Linked DNA regions of Homo sapiens. The protein of the gene in region 2 purifies or fractionates together with the protein of the main gene of each other region. This does not show direct contact. Each region holds a gene or a part of one and is shown on either strand. Other genes may lie near its edges.

Region 1 (3,656 bases), on a different chromosome or scaffold from region 2:
CCTCAACCTCCCGAGTAGCTGGGATTACAGGCGACCGCCACACGCCCGGCTAATTTTTTGTATTTTTAGTAGCGATGGGGGTTTCACCAGGTTGGCCAGGCTGGTCTCGAACTCCTGACCTCAGACCTCAGGCAATCCACCCATTTCGTACTCGCAAGTGCTGGGATCACAGGTGTGAGCCACCGCGCCTGGCCACTGTTTTTTTTTTTTTTTTTTTTTTTTGAGACGGAGTCTCGCTCTGTCACTCAGGCTGGAGTGCAGTGGTGCCATCTTGGCTCACTGCAACCTCCGCCTTTGGGGTTCAAGCGATTCTCCCGCCTCAGCCTCCCAAGTAGTTTGGATTACGGCCATGCATCACTGCGCCCAGCTGATTTCTGTATTTTTAGTAGAGACAGGCTTTCACCATGTTGCCCAGGCTGGTCTCGAACTCCTGATCTCAGGTGATCCACCCGCCTCGGCCCCCCGAAGCGCTAGGATTACAGGCCTAGAAGTCTATCTTTTAAGGCAGGTTTCCTTAAAGTGTTCGGTGAACAGGTCGAGGCACCAATAGTTTTGTTAAATGTTGCCAAACTGCTCCTCAGAAAGGTTGTATCAGTTTGCATTCCCACCAGCAATGTATTAGAATGTCTGTTTCCTCATAGCCTTGCTTGAACCAGATACGTTGTCATACATTTTCATTTTCACCCATCTGATAGTCAAAAAGCGACACCCTTAAATCAAAGGGAAAAAAGTGGTATCTCTGGTTAACTTTGCATTTCTCTAATTACACGAGGCTGACCATCTCTTATGTTTAACCACCACCACCACACACACACACACACATACACCACACAAACACACACACACACAGTTCATTATCAAGTCTTCCCATTTTTTTCTTTTTCTTTTTTTGAAAGGGAGTCTCACTCTGTCGCCAGGCTGGAGTGCAGTGGCACAATCTCGGCTCACTACAACCTCTGCCTCCCAGTTTCAAGCAATTCTCCTGCCTCATCCTCCCGAATAGCTGGGACTAAAGGCATGCACCACCATACCCAGCTGATTTCTGCATTTTTAGTAAAGATGGGGTTTCACCATGTTGGCCAGGATGGTCTCAATCTCTTGACCTCATCATCCTCCCGCCTCAGCCTCCCAAAGTGCTGAGATTACAGGTGTGAGCCACCACACCTAGCCCAAGTCTTATCATTTTTCTATTGGGTTTGGTTCTTCATTCCTCAATTCAAGAGTTCTTCATGTATTACAGATATAGACCCTTTATCTCTGATATACATTGCAAATATGTTCTCTCAATTTGTCAGCTGTCTTTTGACTGTGGGATATTTTGTCAATATAGCAAGAGCTCTTATAAATTGAGATCAGGGGATGCCTGGGGTTTGCAAATCTGAAATGGTATGCAAGTGGTATGTCTGCTTTTCTGAAAGGTCTGCAGTGTTCAGATTTCCAAAGGGTCCTGTGACCTGAGAGTGATTAGGAGCTGTTGCTGCTGCCCCACATCTTCCACTGGCCTAACTGTGCCCCACAGGACCACTTCTGCTGAATGACCTCTAAATTGCTGAAGGCTTCTCTCACGTCTCTTGACTGTTCTCTTTCACAAGTTACACACCCAATGACCTGGCCTCCAGATGCATATTTTCAGGTTGTGTCATTAGTGTGAATACTTATCCATGAATGCATTCCTGGTTTTCTATACCTCTCACACACATGACAACAACAGGAAAGTATAATACTCTAGCTGTGGCCTAACCAGCACACAACAGAGCATGACCACCACTTCTCAGTCCAGATAACACATTTCCCTTAATGATATTAAGAGCAAATTGGCTTTTCCTGGAACAAAGTCAATTCTAATTGACCTGCTAAAACCTGCAGGTCTTCCGTTTCCCCTTTCCCCGTAAGTATTTCTGTTTCTTTTCAATTGTGGAGATCACTTTTTGAAACTGAGTACAAAATGTTAACATTTATATCAATTAAATTTCATTCTGCTTTATACAATTCAAAATGGAATATACACTGGTGGAGCTGGGAGGGAGAAAAGGAATGATTTTAAAAAAGAACAGGGTGGCGGGGCGCGGTGGCTTGCGCCTGTAATCCCAGCACTTTGGGAGGCCGAGGTGGGCGGATCACGAAGTCAGGAGATCGAGACCATCCTGGCTAACACGGTGAAACCCCGTCTCTACTAAAAAAATACAAAAATTTAGCCAGGCGTCATGGCGGGCGCCTGTAGTCCCAGCTACTAGGGAGGCTGAGGCAGGAGAATGGCATGAACCTGGGAGGTGGAGCTTGCAGTGAACTGAGATCGTGCCATTGCACTCCAGCCTGGGTGACAGAGCAAGAATCTGTCTCAAAAAAAAAAAAAAGAACACTGAGATAGTAATCTAGTTCTTAGGTTGATTGTTATGTAAGCATGTGTATGTATATGTATGCATATATAAACACATATATACATGTGTGTGTTCATTATACTTTATGTGTATTACGCATGCTTTTATATCAAACATTACATTAAAAAACTTTTCTCTCCTGAAGTGGCAGGTCCCTAAATTGGAAAAAAAAAAAAAAAGAAACTTTTCTTGTTAGACTCAGCCCACCACATCAAGAAGTAACACAATAGGAACTCTGGGATCCTTAGCCTTTTACCTATTTAACTGTATTTTTAAAAGATAGGGCATTGGCCGGGCGCAGTGGCTCACCCTGTAATCCCAGCACTTTGGGAAGCTGAGGTGGGCGGATCACCTGAGGTCGGGAGTTCGAGACCAGCCTGACCAACATGGTGAAACCCTGTCTCTATTTAAAAAATACCAAAAAATTAGCCGGGCATGGTGGCAGGCACCTGTAGTCCCAGCTACTCAGGAGGCTGAGGCAGGAGAATGGCGTGAACCCGGAAGGCGGAGCTTGCAGTGAGCTGAGATTGTGCCACTGCACTCCAGCCTGGGCAACAGAGCAAGACTCCATCTCAAAAAAAAAAAAAAAAATTAGCCAAGTGTGGTGGTGCATGCCTGTAGTCCCAGCTACTCAGGAGGCTGAGGCAGGAGAATGGCGTGAACCTGGGAGGCGGAGCTTGCAGTGAGCTGAGATTGCGCCACTGCACTCCAGCCTGGGCAATAGAACGAGACTCCATCTCAAAAAAAAAAAAAAAAAATTAGCCGGGTGTGGAGGCACATGCCTGTAATCCCAGCTACTCGGGAGGCTGAAGCAGGAGAATTGCTTGAACCCAGGAGGTGGAGGTTGCAGTGAGCTGAGATCGCACCATTGCACTCCAGCCTGGGCAATAAGAGCGAAACTCTGTCTCAAAAAAAAAAAAAAAAAGGCATCACAGTGTAAACTCAAATATCATGTTCAAATGTTACTTAATGCTTCATTCATTCCTAATCATAGTCACTGTATGAAGCCCACTAACAACAATTAACTGCCCTTTATCCTGTGTAAAGAAAAGATATATGTATCAAGAGCGGGATGGGAGCCTAGCCTAGGCAGCCCAAAGAACATATGAACCTGATGGTGGGTCTAGAGCAGGGGTTGGCAAACCACAGCCCTCAGGCCAGCAGCCTGTGCTAATAAAGTTTTATTGGAATACAGCCACATTCATTCATTTATGTATTGCCTCTGCCCACTTTATGCTACAATGGCAAAGCTGAGTTGTTCCAAAAGAGACCATATGA
Region 2 (2,957 bases):
CAGGAGGCTGAGGCAGGAGGATCGCTTGAACCCGGGAGGTGGAGGTTGCAGTGAGCTGAGATTGCACCGCTGCACTCCAGCCTGGGTGACAGAGCGAGACTCCGTCTAAAAAAAAAAAAAAAAAAAAATTCCGAGGGCACAAAAGGGGAAGGGAAGGAAGGAGAACCTAGGAAGAAAGAAAGGAAAGCATGATGTCTCTGAAGTTGTTAGAAAGACTTCCCCTTGTGGGTGTGTCTGGGCTGCTGGGAAGCTTGTTAATAGAAAGTCTAGTTAGGGGATGGTTGCATTAGCCTTAAGGTTTAAAAAGGAATTGGATTTAAGCTGTATGAGGAAGAAAGGGAAGAATTTGTCTGATTCCTCTAGCACCCCCATCCTTTGTCCCCTGGAGGCTGGTGCACTGTGACAGAGGGAAGAGAGGCCAGGCTAGAGACCAACTGTAGCCAGACAACTCATGTCTGTGCTAGTGACAACTATGTCGATCATAGCATGAAGGCCTGATTGGAGATGGGAAGAGGCTAGAGACTATATAGTTGGAGGAGCTGGCCCTGGTTATTTACTGTAATATCATCACTGATTTATGGATGTTGTATATGGCACTGCAGGACCAAACTAAAACTTGGCATCATAGAAAAATCTTTTATAGATCACAAGGGAGTACAAGAATGGGTTTGGCAAAGTTAAGAGAATGAGGAGCATGTCAGTCCCTCTCCAATCAATAAGAGAAGGCTAAGGAAAGAGTCCTTCCCTATGTAGACTGTGGTTTACCCCATTCTTTCCATTCCCAGTCTACCATTTCTTGGGACTCAGGTTCCAGGGTTTACATTTGACCCTAAACTTTGGGCTTCTAAATCTGTCTGGGTGCTTTGGTGTCACCCTGAGGGATAATCTAATGTGATGAGATGAACCCAGCTCCATTCCATAGGCAGGCAGGTCACTGCAGGACACAGGGATCTCTGAACTCCTGGGCTGAGGATGATTTGCTCCCTGCTGTAGAATCTGCCATTCCTTCCCTTAGCTGGTTCAGAAGGTCTCTGCTCTCACTGGGAGGCAAGTTACTCAGGAAGTATGGAGGGGCCAATTCCACCAGCCTAATAGAGAGAGTCATAATTAGATGATCTGCATCTTCTCTCTCTCTGTCTCTCTCTTTTTAGAGACAGGGTCTCGCTCTGTTACCTGGGCTGGAGTTCAGTGGCATGATCATAACTCACTGTAGCCTTAGACTCCCGTAATCCTTAGCCTTAGACTCAAGTAATCCTCCCACCTCAATCTCCCAAGTAGCTGGGACTACAGGGTGGTTTCAAACTCCTAGCCTCAAGGACTCCTCCTGCCTAGGTCTCCAAAAGTGCATCTTCTCTTATAATGCAGACTTTTAAACTTCTCACCAGCCCTTCCACAAATCCTGTCTCCTCAGATCATGTTTTTACTAACCACTAAGATCCCTTCCTCTGTCTCTCTAACTCCCCAGCCATAATTTTGGCCCCAGGGAGAGGAATAGGCAGTATAGGAGGGATGTCAGGGAACTCACATCTGTGGTTGAATCTCAGAAACAATGGAAAGGCAGTTGTCTTTGGATATGGTGAAATTGTGGTAGAGCACCCATGGTGGGGGTCTGGCAGGAGCTCTGCGGCTTCGGTAGCAGCAGTATGAGGAGAGCTGGGCCACATGCTTATGGGTTAGGAGAAGGTAATTTCCAGTCCCGTCTGTGTCTCTGGCCACCTTATTGAAAGGCAGAAATATTGACGGAATAAATAAAAGGGAAGAGGCAGGCAGTAGAAAAAAATAAAAGGGGATTGAGAAAGAGTAAGGGTGATGAGAGCATGAAAAGTAAAGCATTACCTCTAGGTGTTGTCTGGTCTCTACTATACCTCATGGCATTTACCATAGCCCCTTGTACCTCAAATCCTCAAGGGAAAAGTCCTTTCTGGTTCTAAAGAATCTTTTGAATGGCCACCTGGACCCTGATTTCAAAGTGGCTTACCAATATTTGTTCTCTTTGCCTTTTGCTCCTTTGATCACCCTCACCCCCACCCTTTCCTCTAACCTTGAGAAAGTATCCTGACACCAGTGCTTTCTGAAGGTCTCTGCGATTCTGCTCAGAGCCAAAGGCTGGTAGGGACAAGGGAAGTTCAATTCGTTGCATGAGTTCTAGGAGTTCTCCCCGAAGTTTATGGGCTTGGCACAATGCTGCCCAATTCAGACCTCGAGCCTGGCACCAAGCCTCATCTGCTCCACCTAGGAGAGGAAAGGGACCAGCTAAACTAAAGTCCTTGAGACCCCTGAAATAACCCAACCCTTAGCCAAAGGGCCTCCTCTTTCTGAGCATAGAGATCTGTCAGCTGGCTGCATAAAATTTCCCCTCTTTGGAAAATCTGGGATTCTATAAAAGGATGCAGAACTCACTTTGTATAAAGGCTTCATACACCTGGATCAGAGAACTGTGGTCACCATCCGTGTGTTCCAGGGCCCGACGCAGGGCAGCTTCTTCTGCACTGAGTGGAGGACGGGTAAACCCAGGGGCAGCTGGAGGCAGAAGAGTGGAAGGTAGAATCTGCCATTTGGGAAATGGGAAGGGATAGTAGTACAGGTAGAATGCTGAAAAGGCAGAAGTGTCCCTTTGGGAACTTTATTCAAAAGACATAGATAACTTCTAGGTGCTATGCACTTTATTAAACATTGAGGATAAGTAAATGAAATACAGTCTCTGCCATCAAGGAGCTTCAAGTCTGGTGGGAGAGACCAACAGGTAAGCAGACTTGATAAGCATGATAGGTGTTTGTATATGGTACTGTGGAAACAAAGAGGAGGATACCTAATCCAGGCTTTAGGTGGTGAGGATGTGAGTGATGTAAGAGAAAACGATGAGGACCCTTGGGCTAGTATTTGAAATTTGAGTAGGAATTAGCCGAGTGGAGACGGGGCAGGGAGTATGTTTTAGACTGTGGCAACAGCATGGCACG

Evidence for each region. Proteins that work in one complex are often made in the same cells at the same time.
Region 1: the proteins of DQX1 (region 2) and PRR14L purify together in Homo sapiens (affinity purification with mass spectrometry; one large-scale study listed by BioGRID and IntAct). This does not show direct contact.

Annotation. Positions count from the first base shown.
Region 1 is NC_000022.11:31,733,101-31,736,756, forward strand, and holds part of PRR14L (protein PRR14L), read right to left. Parts: intron 1-3,656.
Region 2 is NC_000002.12:74,517,515-74,520,471, forward strand, and holds the end of DQX1 (ATP-dependent RNA helicase homolog DQX1), read right to left. Parts: intron 2,521-2,957; coding exon 2,401-2,520; intron 2,233-2,400; coding exon 2,042-2,232; intron 1,717-2,041; coding exon 1,526-1,716; intron 1,089-1,525; coding exon 932-1,088; 3' UTR 617-931; downstream 1-616. UniProt on the Homo sapiens protein: Might be involved in RNA metabolism; it is missing helicase motif III and may not have helicase activity.